Regions from separate parts of the Homo sapiens genome. Here region 1 is linked to region 2. A link means that fine-mapping ties the variant in region 2 to the expression of a gene that starts in the linked region. Tissue or cell type: putamen. Region 2 holds a variant in brackets; the other region holds the start of a gene. All regions are shown on one strand. Distances are from middle to middle.

The links. PIP is the estimated chance that this variant, and not a neighbour inherited with it, causes the effect.
Region 1: it holds the start of SUCLA2-AS1, and the variant in region 2 is fine-mapped to the expression of SUCLA2-AS1 in putamen (GTEx, PIP 0.93).

The regions. Positions count from the first base shown.
Region 1 is chr13:47,997,965-48,006,068 of GRCh38, reverse strand. SUCLA2-AS1 (SUCLA2 antisense RNA 1) reads right to left here and starts at 4,664. Exons shown (of 2, transcript NR_189308.1): 1 at 4,247-4,664; 2 at 3,378-3,634. SUCLA2 (succinate-CoA ligase ADP-forming subunit beta) reads left to right here and starts at 4,796. Exons shown (of 11, transcript NM_003850.3): 1 at 4,796-4,889. The coding sequence starts at 4,800. RefSeq lists enhancers at 791-1,388, 1,987-2,584, 3,256-4,455, 4,832-5,021, 5,042-5,091 and 1 more and a silencer at 4,602-4,711.
Region 2 is chr13:47,847,425-47,855,533 of GRCh38, reverse strand. No RefSeq gene overlaps it. Among named protein-coding and RNA genes, the nearest start is that of LINC00562, 81 kb to the left of the region's middle. The variant T/C (reference allele first, on the strand shown) is at 4,831.

The DNA.
Region 1 (8,104 bases), 150 kb before region 2:
GTCTTAAACTCCTGACCTCAGGTGATCCACCCCCCTCAGCCTCCCAAAATGCTGGGATTACAGGTGTGAGCCACCACACCTGGCTGAATTTTTACCTTAACATGGCCTTTTGCAAAGCCAAAGCTTTTATTTTGATGGGGCACAATTTATCAATTTTTTTTTTATGGATCATGCTTTTGGTGTTGTCTAAGAATTCTTTACCTAGTTTTAGATCTTGAAATTTTCTCCTATTTTTTTCTAAATGTTTTATGGTTTTGTGTTTTACAGTTAAGGTAATTTTGAGTTAAGTTTTGTATAATATGTGAGATTTTGGTCAGGGCTCTTTTTGATTGTTTGCTTGCTTATGGATGTCCAATTCCTCCAGCACCATTTGTTTAAAAGACCATATTTCCTCCGTTGAATTACTTTTGCACCTTTGTCAAAAATCAGTTGGGCATATTTGTGTGAGCCTATTTTTAGGTTTCTTATTAAGTTTCATCAATCTATGTGTCTCTCTCTCCAGCAATACCACACAGTCTTGATTATTGTAGCTATTATAGTAAATGTTGAACTCAGACTGTTTCTTCCCACTTTGTTCTTTTCAAAATTGTTTCAGCTATTCTAGTTTGTCTTTTCACATAAAGTTTATAATACTACGTCTGTATGTATAAAAAGTTTTGCTTGAATTTTAATAGAAATACATTAAATGTATATATCAATTTGGGGAAGAATTGACATCTTTACTGTGTTAGGTCTTCCAATCCATTAACATGGTAATATCTCTTCACTTATTTATCTTCTTTGATTTATGTCATCAGTATTGTGTAGTTTTCAGCAGGTAAGTCCTGTTCATGTTTTATTAGATTTACATGCATTTCATTTTTAAAAGGAATTTTAGGTGGTATTGTATTTTCGATTTGGGTCCATGTGTTCATTGCTTGTACCTAGAAATACAATTGATTTTTGTATATTTTTCTTGTTTCCTGAGATCTTGCAGGGCTCACTTATCAATTCAAAGAGTTTTTTTTTTTTTTTTTTGGTAAAATGTTTGGGATTTTATACACAGACAATCATCTTATTCTTGTCAGGCCTCTGAGCCCAAGTCTGCACGTATTCATCCAGATGGCCTGAAGTAACTGAAGATTCACAAAAGAAGTGAAAATGGCCTGTTCCTGCCTTAACTGATGACATTCCACCATTGTGATTTGTTCCTGCCCCACCTTAACTGAGCGATTAACCTTGTGAAATTCCTTCTCCTGGCTCAGAACCTCCCCCACTGAGCACCTTGTGACCCCCACCCCAGCCTGCCAGAGAACAACACCCTTTGACTGTAATTTTGCTTTACCTACCCAAATCCTATAAAACGGCCCCACCCCTATTTCCCTTTGCTGACTCTCTTTTCCGACTCAGCCCGCCTGCACCCAGGTGATTAAAAAGCTTTATTGCTCACACAAAGTGAGTTTGGTGGTCTCTTCACATGGACGCGTGTGAAAATTGTGTATAAATTACCTGAGGGTTGGTAATTCATAAAGAAAAAAGGTTTATTTGGCTCATGGTTCTGCAGGCTAAACAAAAAGCCTAGAGCCAGCATCTGCTTCTGGTGAGGGACTCAGGAAACTTCCCCAAATGGCAGAGGGTGAATGGGAGCTGGCATGTGCAGAGATCACACTGGAAGAGAGCAGAAGTGAGAGAGAGAAAGAGGGAAGGTGCTAGGCTGTTTTTAACAATGAGTTCTTGGGAGAACTCTCACAGGAGCCAATACAATGAGAACTTCTCATTACCCAGAGGACAGCACCAAGCCCTTCATGAGGGATCGGCCTCCGTGATCCAAACACCTTCCACCAGGCCCCACCTCTAACATTGGAGAATCAGATTTCACCATGAGGTTTGGATGGTCAGATATCCAAACTATAGCAACAATTATGTTATCTGTAAATAGTGAGAGTTTTCTTTCTTTCTTTTCACTCCATATGTTTGTAATTGCTTTTCTTGTCTATTGCACTGACAAGAACTCCCAGCACTATATTGAATAAAAGTGGTGAGAGCGAACACCCTTGCCTTGCTCCCAGTCTTATGAGAAGAGCATTCAGTCTTCTCTCACCATTAAGTATATTAGCCGTAAGTTTTTTGTAATCCGGTTTATCAAGATGAGGAAGTTCCCCTCTATTCCTGTTTATCTGAGTTTTTAATCATGAATGAATGTTGGAATTTGTAAGATGCTTTTTTTGTTTTTTTTTTTTTTGAGATGGAGTTTCACTCCTGTTGCCCAGGCTGGAGTGCAATGGCACGATCTCGGCTCACTGCAACCTCTGCCTCCCTGGTTCAAATGATTCTCCTGCCTCAGCCTCCTGAATAGCTGGAATTACAGGCACATGCCACCACACCCAGCTAATTGTGTATTTTTAGTAGAGACGGGGTTTCTCTGTGTTGGTCAGGCTAGTCTCAAACTTCTGACCTCAGATGATCTGTCTGCCTCGGCCTCGCAAAGTGCTGGGATTACAGGCGTGAGCTACCATGCCTGGCCTGTTTTTTTTTTTTTTTTGTAATGGGGGTCTCATTATGTCACTCAGGCTGGAGTGCAGGGGCACGATCACGGTTCACTGCAGCCTGGACCTCCTGGGCTCAAGTGATTTCCCCCCCATCTCAGTCTCTGGAGTAGCTGGGACCACAGGTGTACACCACCATGACTGGCTAATTTTAAAATTATTTATAGAAATGAAGTCTTGCTATGTGGCCCAACCAGTTTGGTCTCAAACTCCTGGGTTCAAGCAATCCTCCCACCTCGGCCTCCCAAAGTGTTTGGATTACAGGCATGAACCATTGTGCCCAGCTACTTTTTTTGTTTTGATCGAAATTATCATGTGATTTTTCTAACTTAATATAGTGCATTACACATATTTTCAAATATTAAAACAAACTTACATCTCTGGAATATATCCCACTTGGTCATATTGTACAATTCTTTTTATATATTTCTGAATTATATTTGCTAATATTTTGCTATGGATTTTTCCATCAATATTCATGAGAAGTGTTGGTATTTTTTTCTTTTTGTACGGTCTTTTGCTGGCTTTGGTAGTGGGGTGATTCTAACTTCATACAGTACATTGGCAACTGTTCCTTCCTCTTCTATCTTCTGGAAGAGGCTGTATGGAATTGGTGTTAATTCTTGTGTAAACATTTTATAGAATTCATCAGTGAAAGCTTTTGGGCCTGGAGATCTCAGGTTTTTTTTTTTTTTAGTTTAAAAATTACAATTACAATTTTCTCTAGTTAGAGGACTATTTAAATTACCTTTTCATATTAGGTTATTTGTAGTAATTTGTGCCTTCTGAAGAATTCGCTCATCTTGTCAAAGTTGTCAAATTTATGTTATGTGGTGTTATTTATGGCATTCCTTTTTGGTGTCTGAAGGTTCTGTAATTATATTCCCTGGTATGTTCCTCACATTGGTAATTTGTGTCTTCTCTTTTTCTTTTTTCTTTGCAGTCTTGCTGGAGGTTTGTTAAATTTATTTATCTTTTCAAAAACCAGATCCTTGGCTGGGTGTGGTTGCCCACACCTGTCATCCCAGCACTTTGGGAGACTGAGGCAGGAGGATCGCTTGAACCCACGAGTTGGAGACCAGCCTGGGCAACATAGAGAGATTCTGTCCCTAAAAAAATAAAATAAAAAAATCAACCAAGCCTGGTGACACACATCTGTGGTCCCAAACTACTCCAGAGGCTGAGGTGGGAGGATCCCTTGAGCATGGGAGGTTGAGGCTGCAGTGAGCTGTGATCGCGTCACTGCACTCCAGCCTGGGTGACAGACCAAGACCCTGTCAATCAGTCAATCAATCAATCAATAGCTTCCCTGGAGACTCCAGCCTGCCACCAGCTTTGGTAACTAGTGGCCGACTGTCAGGCCTCTGAGCCCAAGCCTGCACGTGTACATCCAGATGGCCTGAAGCAAGTGAAGAATCACAAAAGAAGGGAAATTGGCCGGTTCCTGCCTTAACTGATGACATTCCACCATTGTGATTTGTTCCTGCCCCACCTTAACTGAGTGATTAACCTTGTGAAATTCCTTCTCCTGGCTCAGAACCTCCCCCACTGAGCACCTTGTGACCCCCGCCCCTGCCCGTAAGAGAAAAACCCCCTTTGTAATTTTCCGCTACCCATCCAAATCCTATAAAACAGCCCCACCCCTATCTCCCTTTGCTGACTCTCTTTTCGGACTCAGCCCGCCTGCACCCAGTTAAAATAAACAGCCTTATTGCTCACACCCTGTTTGGCGGTGTCTTCACACGGATGCGCGTGACACCGATCTCTTTGAGCATCAGAAGCGCATGACACCGACCATCTTCTCTTTGAGCATCACAAGCGCGTTACACCGACCATCTTCTCTTTGAGCATCACAAATGGTTTTATTCATTGCTGTAGGCCAAGGGCTCAAGGCTGTTTAGCACGAAGTAGACACTGGGTAATCATTTCTTGAATGAAACACATTTTACAGATGAGGCAACTGAGGCTGAGAGAAGTTAAGATCACCCAAGTGGCGGCGCTGGTCACCTTTACATTGCAATTCACTAGGAAGTGTTCAGGTTGCTCTGACCGCAGGGCAGATATTGGGGCTGCGGTGCCCAGTTCCAAAGGTCAAAGCTTGCTCCGCGCCCGCCAGGGAGCTGGTCTAGCGGCTGCAGTGTTAACCCGAGGCCCCGCCCCCAACGGGTGGCGCGAGGCGGGGCGTAGGTGAGCGCTGCAGAGAGGCTGCGCCTTGGGCCGCCTGTCGCCTGTGCGCCTGCGCGCGGCGCCGAGGGGACGGGGTCCGACTCAGAAATGGCGGCCTCCATGTTCTACGGCAGGCTAGTGGCCGTGGCCACCCTTCGGAACCACCGGCCTCGGACGGCCCAGCGGGCTGCTGCTCAGGTAATGCCTTCCAGTCCGCTGTCGTCTCGAGGGTCGGCAGGAGAAAGGGTGAGGTGTGAGGGGTCCCGTGGCCCGGCTCGGGGTCACTTCGCCGGCAGTGACATTTTCTGGGTGCCCTGCAAGGCCCTCGGGCGACTTGCCTGGGAGTGCTGCTCGCCAGGACTACGAGCGAGCCCATGTTTGCGCGGCTCTGACCCAGCCCTTAGTCCGCGAGGATCCCCGGCGGCCCGGCCGTGGCTGCTCCTGCAGTTTCTAAGAGATGGGCGGGAGCAGGTGGGCTCTGAGTGGAGGTGAGGGGGTCAGGACATTTTCTGCTGCCATTCCGGCGTCTGGCACGGTGGGCTGAGACTTGCGCCGCCCCTTTTTGGGCAGGGGGGAATGCCCTTCAAAAGTACTTTTGTGTTTCTTGGGAGCTGTCATAGGTGGGAATGTCAGAGGACCAGCGGTGCTTACTGACTTGCCTTTTGTGGGGCAAGGTAGGGAAGTTTCCCCTCTCCTCCAAGTAGTTGTATACTGTTCTACTTGTTAATAGCAGTAATAAGATTATGTTTTCTACCTAACCAGTTGGAGAGGTAAGAAAATAATCTTTTGTATAGCCTTATTTCTGGATAGGCTATAGCATAATAGTTACTGGCCTTGTTTTGAATATTTGATGTGTGCCAGGTAATGTGCTAAGCGCTTTACGTGTAGTTTCTCAGGTTTTTCAGCAACTGTGAGGAAGTCATTCAACACCTGCATCATTGTTGAACATATTATGGTTAAGAGAACAAGTAATTTGGACTAGGTCATATAGGAGGTAAGATCAAAGCTGAGATTTAATCCCAGAGGTGTCTGGTTCTAAAGCCGTGTACTTGAGTTGGCTCCACAACTTCGAAAACAAACATCTTCCTTCCAACTTTGACAACAAAAAACTGTGGAAGGGCATTATTGGTGTCCTAAGTCAATTCCAGAGTTTTGGGTTTTTTTCTGAAGTAACTCTTCATACATGTCATAGTATGAATTGATTTAGGGCCCTCCCGCCCCTACCTTTTTTTTTTTTTTTCATTTTTATTGAAGTTGTTCATACTTTCAGCCTAGGGGTAGTGAGTTCTGTGAGTTTGCTTCCCGATAGAAGTGACTTTTTGACCTTGAACTTCCTTCTTATGAATCTTAGAAGAGTGCTATTTAGTTTTTAGAAAATGGGGAATTTAGTGACAAATACGTTTTCATTCTAGTCAAAATCTTTATCTTTTTGGAAGTTCATTTAAAAGCCTTCATTTCTCCTTATGGAAATTTCCAATATTATTTTCTTTATAACAGTTGCTGTCTTCTACCCTGGTATTAAGAAATGCAGCTCTAGAGTTTGGAAGGACCTTAGTCCAACCCTTTGCTTTTGTAGATGAGGACATAGAAGTACGGAGTCTTAAGAAACTCGTTCAAGGTCACACATTTAATTTAGCAATTTGTTTTCCACATTTTTTTTTTTTTTTCCTTGAGACGGAGTCTTGCTCTGTCGCCCAGGCTGGAGTGCAGTGGCGCGATCTTGGCTCACTGCAAGCTCCGCCTCCCGGGTTCATGCCATTCTCCTGCCTCAGCCTCCCTAGTAGCTGGGACTGCAGGCGCCTGCCACCACGTCCGGCTAATTTTTTGTATTTTTAGTAAAGACGGGGTTTCACCGTGTTAGCCAGGACGGTCTCGATCTCCTGACCTCGTGATCCTCCCGCCTCGGCCTCCTAAAGTGCTGGGATTACAAGCTTGAGCCACCGCACCCGGCCTGTTTTAAACATTTGTTTAAGTTCTCTGACCCTCCTCCAATTTCTTGGTATCTTTAGCCTAGTGTACCTTCGTTGAAAATAGATATTTCAGCATATGTCTTTAAGAATAAGGACATTCTTCCAAATAACCGCAGTGATCATACTTAGGAATTCAACATTGCTGTAACATGAATATATATAGTTTAGATTCAGATTTTTCTAGTTGTCCCCAAAGTGTTCTTTATAGACATTAGATTTTTTAAAAATTTAAACTGGGATGAGACCTTGTGACATTTTCTCTGACCAACTAACCAATTAGGTGCCACCTAGTGACTTATGTGCTAGTGACCTAGTGCTCTTATATGTGTTGCAGTTGTTTATTTACATGCCTGTGAACTCTGTGGCTGGGACCCAAGTGTCTTTATTTTTTTAGTGTCCCTAGCCCACTGTCTAGTTCATAGTCATCACAAAAAATATTTGAGTGTATGACTTTTTGCCAGGCTTATGCTAGTTACTCCCCTACCCACTAATTTTTATTATTATTTTGACGTATAATTTATGTACAGTAAGATGTACAGCTTAAGTGGATAGCTAGATTAATTTTTATGTATGTATTCACCTGTGTAACCATCGTCTGCATCAAGATATACAATGTTTCCAGCCCTCAGAAGGCTCTCATGTCCTCTCTCTTATCAATACTCCCTGACAGAAGGTAGCAACCAATTATGACTTCTGTCACCATAGGCTAATTTTGACTGGTTTTGAACGCTATAAAAATAAATCATGTAAGTATATATTCTTGTTTCTGGCTTCTTTCTCTCTACATTATGTTTGTGAGATTAATCCATCGATGTGTGAGCCATAGTACTTTTTTTCTTTTTATTTCTCTGTAGTATACTATTATATACATATACCACAGTTTATCCATTCTCCTGTTGATGGGCAATCAGCTAATTTCTGTTTTCTGTCTGTTATAAATAAGCCTGCTCTGGACACTCTAGACATTTTTATGTGTGCCTTTTGACAGATGTAAGGACTAATTTCTATTGATACATACCCAGGAATGGGATTTCTGAGTCAGAAGGTGGAGGTATACTAAACAGTAGTTTGAGAGGTTGCTGGGTTTTTTTTTCTTTTTTTTTTTTTTTTTAACTTATTTATTTGTTTTTTTAGACAGGGTCTTGCTCTGTTGACCAAGCTGGAGGACAGTGGTGAAATCACAGCTCACTGCAGTCTCAAACTCCTGAGCTGAAGGGATCCTCCTGCCTCAGTCTCAGGAGTAGCTGGGATTATAGGTGTAAGCCACTGTGCCCAGCTTGGTTGCTGGCTTTTAATATTGAAGTGACACTAAATCAAGGAATTGAGCTACCTAGGTCAAATGTTACCAAGGATTTTAGCTTGCTAAATGGATCAGAAATAAGTTGCTATTATATATGATTGATTTGTAAGACTAGTAGTTCTCATAACTGTAGGGTTCTTAAG
Region 2 (8,109 bases):
CGAGACACTGTCTGGGGAGAAAAAAAAAAAAGAAGTTACACCAGAGCTGACCTAAGACAGTGGCATGATTGGCTGCCAAGAAGACATCCTGGAATCAAAGGGTACCAAAGGATAGTAGGTCCAGCCCTTCCAATAAGACCTAGGTAAGATTGTCTGGTCTTGTCCCATTTCCCCATTGACCAACAAAAGAAGTGCTAATCTAGTATAGAAACGTTAGACTCAGAAAAGTGGAACTTTTCCAAGGCAGTCCAAAAAGTCTATTGAATACGACTGGCCAACTCAAAAATTTGTATATCAACATGTAGTTATTATGAATTAGGTGATTGTGTGCGTGTGTGTATGTGTGTGTGCTGATGAAATTTTGTGATTACAAAACTTTTAAAAGTGGAAATTTTTGCCTCTGCTATTTGTCTTAGGTTTCTAATTTTAGAGGTCTTGCATTATGGAATTTTCTAAGCTGCTGTATGAGACCTTGTTCATGTGCCTCCATAGATTCTCATTGCTCGCCCTGTCCCCCAGGTCCTGAGCAGCTCGCTCAATGGAAGGCCCCTCATCTTCTCCCTCTGGGTCTCAGTCCTCCCCCGCCCACTTGGCGATGGTTGGGCTCTCCATGGTGTCCGTGGTGCATGTCTTGGCAGGAGCTGCATCAACCTTGCACCCAGCCATCACCTAAGGATCGGGGGAGTCTTGGCCCATTACTCCACTTCTGCGCTACAGGCAGCGGGACCTGGGTTCCCTAGTGGGTTGCCCTACTGGGTGAAGACTTTGAAAGTGTGGAGGGAACATTCTGACTAATGAAGGCAGGAGATGTGCTCAAAGGTTCCATTCATTTCCCTTTCTTCCCCTGCTGGACTCTTCTGAGGGGAAATGGTTTTCCATGATCTGTCTGGAAGATGGGCCACATGGCCAAGCAACTGGCTGTGTTGTCTTATAAGCTGTGGCTAGATAAGTGGATAAATGAGGTGGACCTTATATTTGCTAACTTGATCTACTTCCTTCCACACTCTTGCTGTCCTGGGATTGTCCTTTTTTATAAAGCCTCAGTACATGGGTAACTGCCACAGGTTTTGTTTTCTAGGAAACGCAGGTAGAGGAGTGGGTCTAGAACGCAGACCCTCAAGACTGGATTTTGGGTTGAGTTGCCTATCTGTCTGAAAGCATTAGGAACTTCATTGCTTGTGGAAAATGAAATGCTGACAATTCTGGCATACAGCAGCATCCTGAATTAGCTATTGCTGTCGTGACAAATTACCATAATCTTAGTGGCTTAAAACAACACAAGGCATTAATTATTTTTTTTTAAATTAAATTTAAAAAATTTTTTTGAGATGGAGTCTCACACTGTTGCCCAGGCTGGAGTGTAGTGGTGTGATCTTGGCTCACTGCAGCCTCTGCCTTCTGGGTTCAAGCAATTCTCCTGCCTCAGCCTCCCAAGTAGCTGGGACTACAGGCACCTGCCACCATGCCCATCTAATTTTTATATTTTTAGTAGAGAAAGAATTTTCACCATGTTAGCCAAGCTGGTCTCGAACTACTGACCTCAAGTGATGCACCCACCTCAGCCTCTTAAAGTGCTGGGGTTACAGATGTGAGCCTGGCCTAATTTATTATCTTAAAATTTGTAGGGTGGAAGTCTGATAGAGGTCTCACTGGGCTAAAGTCAAAGTGTCAGTAAGGCTGTGTTCTTTTCCAGAGGCTCCAAAGGAGAAGCTGGCTCCTTGTCTTCTCTAGCTTCTAGAAGTCACCTGTACTTTCTTGGCTTGTGGCCCCTTTTTCTGTCTTCAAAGGCCAGCAATGCAGTAGCAGCTCCCTGACCCTTATTCCATGGTCACTTCTTACCCAGTTAGGAAAGTATCTCTGTCTTTAAGAACTCGAATGGTTAGACTGAGCCCATTTGATAATCCAGGATAATCTCCCCATCTCAAACTACCTAACCTCAATCACATCCACAAAGTCCCTTTTGTCTATATGTAAAGTGGCATATTCACAGCTTCTGGAAAGTACATATCTCTGCAGGGAGCATTCTTCTGCTGATTACTCATAAAAATTACTGAAGTTTTCACTTGTGGTTTATTGAGAAGTGTAGTTATAAGACAAGGCATTGGTAGATGCGTGACTGATGCATCTGGTTGTTATGAGAGGAACAAAATTTATAAGGATTGTGGCATGAGGTATCTTCTTTTGATGGAATTAGTAGCTTTATAAAAAGAGAATCACAGACACATTTAAGCCATGCTTTGTCAGCCAGAGTGTTCCTAAGGCAGCTTTAAAGGACTCATTTCTCACAGCTACCATGAAGCCTGTGCTGAAAATCCAGCTCTGGATTTAATTATAAGGGCGGCAGAAATGCAAGACATATTATGCGCACCATCTCAACAAGGTTCCTCTGACAAATTTAGCACCCTGAGAGGAAAAGATGGGCACTTTGAGACACAGGAGGGTACCGTAAGGGTCCCAGTTCCTCTGGATCCTCCTCATTGGCAGAAGCAGCTCCATCACCCTTTCCAAAGGAAAACAAGCCCTCTTGCTTCCCATTGTCTGGATACTTTGAGAAGCTTCAGGTGAGGGCGAGGCAGTCGACTGGCTGGTTCTCCTCAAGCTCAAGTCCACCACCCTCATTGCCTTCAGGCCGATAACCAGATTCAGGTCTCAGCTCAGCCTGAATGGGGAAGTAGAGCCCTTCTTTAGGGTGAAGTGGTCCCTATAAAGGAGTTAGAGAATGTGGGTAAGAAGTGCCCGGAGGAAATGAGGCAGCACATCAGAGGTGGATCTTGAAAATGTTAGTCCTGAGAGGGAGGAGTATAGGCTGGATAGGGGAGAATTCTGTGATAGAGGGGCACCCATAACTCAGGATTCAGTGTTCCAGTCACACACTGGGTGCTTATCTTAACAGCTTGCTAGAAGGACCCCTTGAAACCTAAATTGGGCAACACCTTTCAATGAATAAGATGGAGATGCCATAATTTCTTTGCCTTAGAAAGTGGTCAGAAGGCTCAAGGAGCTTTTGAGGTTTTGAGGATGGATGGACTGCGGATGACTTGAGAAGCCACCATGTGACTATGTCCTACATGCAATTTTACATCTCTGCTTATTCAAATTTAAGGTTGTTTCTGGATTCATGAATTTGAGCCACTGGGCAAAGCAGAGCTTTATTCAATTACTGATTCATTTATTTAATAAATATTCACTGAAACCAATTATATGTCCACCAATATGCAAAGGTGCCTATGACATAAAGAAAATCCCTTGCCTTGAGGAGTTCCTAATCTAGTATGGAAGGCAGACCCCTGGGGAGAAAAATCATCTACTCTCAAGACCACTCCACTGAAAATCCTTCAGTTATATGCTGTGGCATATGAATTTCAGAGCAGTTGTCCTGTAAGTGCTGCTTTTCTAACACGATAAAATGTTATGATCTTATGCTAGGTGTAGAAATAAGTGCAGACACTTGAATAGGCTTATAAACATTTCATCTGAAGACTTCAATTTGAAAAAAGACTCAAGAGGAAAAATATATAGATTCAGACAGTTGTTTTTTAAATATATTTGTATTATTTCTTTATCTTTTGAGATTGTCATTTGGAGGCTATACAATTGTTTTTCAAGAATTACTGAAAATGCAGACACTATTTTGGTGAATTTTTAATTTAAATAGATGTGGGTTTAGAGGGATATGCTTCAGGCAAAAATCTCATTAATTCTTCTTGCTTTCCATTTTGAAATGAACAAAAAGGCTTATGAATGAGGGGCAGAGGAAGAAAGATGAATTTCTGTCTTATTTCATTTCATCTGCCACTCAGACATTGTAATTTCTTTAAAGCAAGGAAAACCACTTAGTTTTTGATAATTTAAGTTCCTCACATAATTAATAGATAGTTTTTCTGGTCTATCAACTTCATCATTTTTTCAATTTTTTCATGTCTTGTAGTGTGAAGTAAGCATCACAGTAATAGCTAAATAAGATGATAAATCAGTATAACATGCATTTATTTTGATGATTTTTATTGCAATTAAAAGTTTGGAATATTATTATAAAGATTAATATCAATAAAATTGTTTTGGGAACAATTCATGGAAAATGATTATGGTAGGTAGAGGGTGATCAATAAATATTTGAATGACACTGCAGAAGGAGTGAGTTTATAATGTGTAAAATCAGCCATTTCCTTTACCAACAATTTCATTCTACTTCTTTGCATGAGGAGAATGTTTGTTGAGTGATTTTACATAATTAAGTAGAGAATGCTGCATTAGGAGTGCTGAATTCTGACATCAATTCCAGATGTGTTTTGGCAAATAGTATTATGAAAATACCATATTTTCCTCTTGTAAAAGAAATATGTTGTTTATTCATATATATATATATTTAAAAAATACAAGGAAGTTTACTCATATGGCTACCACCAAGAAATAATAACTGTTCATAGTTTGGTATCTATTATTCTAGTATTTATGTGTGTAACCATTTTATTAAGTAGACTTAAATCAGCAAAAGATATTATTTTTCCCTCAATGCCTTAAGATATGTTCTGTTGTTTCTTCATTCCCTGTCTCTTGACAATATTTCTGGCATTCTTCATAGTGTTTCCATTTTTCCTCTCTCTCACACACTTTATTGGCTATCGTGGGAATATTTACACCATGGAAATTGGCAAATGCTGCAAATCCACATCTTGCCCTGAGTCCATGTTTACTGCTCCAGGTAATTGAATACTAAGCCATTCAGTACATGATATTCCCTTAGTTCAAGGGATTGCTTTAGAGGTTGTCTAATCAATGTGATGCTTTGAAAAATTTTTTGGGAGTTGTGGGACACAGGAAATCTCTTTC[T/C]TTTTGGATGACAAAGAATATGGATTTACAGCCTGAACTTGCTGCTACCATTGTGTTACAAAGAAAAGCTATCCTGAAGAAACAACTCACACAGAAATAAAGTCAGGAGCAACATAATACTGAACAGGGAAAAGTTGAAAGCGTTGCCCCTGAGAACTGGAACAAGACGAGGATGCCAACTTTCACCACTTCTACCCAACATAGTACTGGAAGTCCTAGCCAGAGCAATCAGACAAGAGAAAGAAGTAAAGGGCATCCAAATCAGTAAAGAGAAAGTCAAACTGTCGCTGTTCACTGATGATATGACATATACCTAGAAAACCCTGAAGACTCATCCATAAAACTCGAAGAACTGATAAATGAATTAAATAAATTTTCAGGATACAAAATTCATGTACACAAACCAGTAGTATGACTATACACCAACAACAACCAAACAGAGAATCAAATAAATAACTCAATCCGTTTTACAGCAGCTGCAAACAAAAACAAAAACAAAAACAAAAAAACCCCGAAAAACCTAGGAATGTACTTAACCAAGGAGGTAAAAGATTTCTACAAGGAAAACTACAAAACATTGCTGAAGGAAATCATAGATGACACAAATAAATGGAAACACATCCCATGCTCATGGATGGGTAGAATCAATATTGTGAAAATGGCCATACTGCCAAAATCTACAGATTCAGTGTACTTCCCATCAAAATAGTATCATCACTTTTCACAGAACTAGAAAAAAAAATTCTACAGTTCATATGGAACCAAAAAGGAGCCCACATAGTCAAAGCAAGACTAAGCAAAAAGAACACATTTGGAGGCATCACATTACCCGACTTTAAGCTATAATACAAGGCTACAGTTACCAAAACAGCATGGGGCTGGTGTGAAAATTGGCATGTAGACCAATGGAACAGAATAGAGAACCCAAAAATAAATCCAAATACTTACAGCTAACTGATCTTTGACAAAGAAACAAAAACATAAATTGGGGGCTGGGCGCCATGGCTCACACCTGTAATCCCAGCACTTTGGGAGGCCAAGGTGGGCAGATCACTGAAGTCAGGAGTTTGAGACAAACCTGGCCAACCTGGTGAAACCTCATCCCTACTAAAAATACAAAAATTAGCCGGGCATAGTGGCGGGTGTCTGTTATCCCAGCTACTTGGGAGGCTGAGGCAGGAGAATTGCTTGAAACTGGGAGGCTGAGGATGCAGTGAGCCCAGATTGTGCCATTGCACTCCAGCCTGGGTGACAAGAGTGAAACTCCGTCTCAAACACACCACAACAGAACATAAATTACGGAAAGATCACCCTATTCAACAAATGGTGCTGGGATAATTGGCAAGCCACATGTAGAAGAATAAAACTTGATCCTCATCTCTCACCTTATACAAACATTGATTCAGGATTGAACAAAGACTTAAATCTAAGACCTGAAACCATAAAAATTCTAGAAGAAGACATCAGAAATACTCTCTAGATATGAGCTTATGCAAAGACTTTATGACCAAGAACCCAAAAGCAAATGCAACAAAAACAAAAATAAATAAATGGGACCTAATTAAACTAACAAGCTTCTGCACAGCAAAAGAAATAATCAGCAGAGTAAACAGACAACCCACAGAGTGGGAGAAAATATTTGTGAACTATGCATTTAACAAAGGACTAGTATACAGGAACTCAAACAAATCAGCAAGGAAAAAGAAATAATCCCAACAAAAAGTGGGCAAAAGACATGAACAGACAATTCTCAAAAGAGGATAAACAAATGGCCAACAAACAAATAAAAAAATGCCATGGATGAAGCTGGAAACCATCATTCTCAGCAAACGATCACAAGGACAAAAAACCAAACACCACATGTTCTCACTCATAGGTGGGAATTGAACAATGAGAACACATGGACGCAAGAAGGGGAACATCACACACCGGGGCCTGTGGTGGGGTGGGGGGTGGGGGGGGCGGGAAGGATAGCATTAGGAGATATACCTAATGTAAATGACGAGTTAATGGGTGCAGCACACCAACATGGCACATGTATACATATGTAACAAAACTGCACGTTGTGCACATGTACCCTAGAACTTAAAGTATAAAAAAAAATACTCAGCATCACTTATTATCAGGGCAATGCAAATAAAAACCACATGTGATACCACCTTACTCCTGCAAAAATGGCCATAATTTAAAAATGAAAAAAAAAATAGATGTTGGCATGGATGTGGTGAAAAAGGAACATTTTTACACTGCTGGTAGAAATGTAAACCAGTACAACCACTGTGGAAAACAGTATGGAGATTCCTTAAATAACTAAAAGTAGAACCACCATTCAATCCAGTAATCCCACTACTGGGTATTCTTCACACAAAGGAAAGGAAGTCATTATATGAAAAAGACACTGGCACACACATGTTTATAGCAGCACAATTTGCAATTGCAAAAAATGTGGAACCAGCTTAAATGTCCATCAAACAATTAGTGAATAAAGAAAATGTGGTATATATGCACCATGGAAAACGAATCAGCCATAAATCGAAACAAAATAATGACATTTGCAGCAACCTGCATGGAGTTGGAGACCATGATTATAGGTGAAGTAACTCAGGAATGGAATGTTGTGTATTCTCACTTATAAGTGGGAACTAAGCTATGAGGACACAAAGGCATAAACATGATGTAATAGACTTTGGGGATTCAGGCGAAAGGGCGGGTGGGGCATGAGGGTTAAAGGACTATGCATTGGGTACAGTGTACACTGACCATGTGATGAGTGCACCAAAATTTCAGAAATCACCACTAAAGAACTTATTCATGTAACCAAAACCAGCTGCTCCCCAAAAATAATGAAAATGTTTGAAATATTGAGAGAATTACTAAAATGTAACACAGAAACATGAAGTGAGCACATGCTGTTGGGAAAATGGCACCAATAGATTTGCTGGATATAGGGTTGCCACAAACCTTCAGTCTGTAAGAATACGATATCTGCACAGCACAATAAAGTGAAGTGCATAAAACGAGGTGTGCCAGTATAAGCAGTCGAGACCTCAGTCTATGGGAAATACTCGGATTCACAAAATTTTATTTCCATGCCTGTGATGACAGCAGGAAATACGTACCCGTGACCATACAGACGCAGAATCCTAAAACTGAAAGTAAATGGAATTATAAGTTTGGAAATTGGTGCTAAGGACAGGGAAAATTGATTTGGGTAAATACTGATTCTAACAAGAATTGAAGTTCTGAAAACCCTACATCCAACACAAGAAGATACCTTGG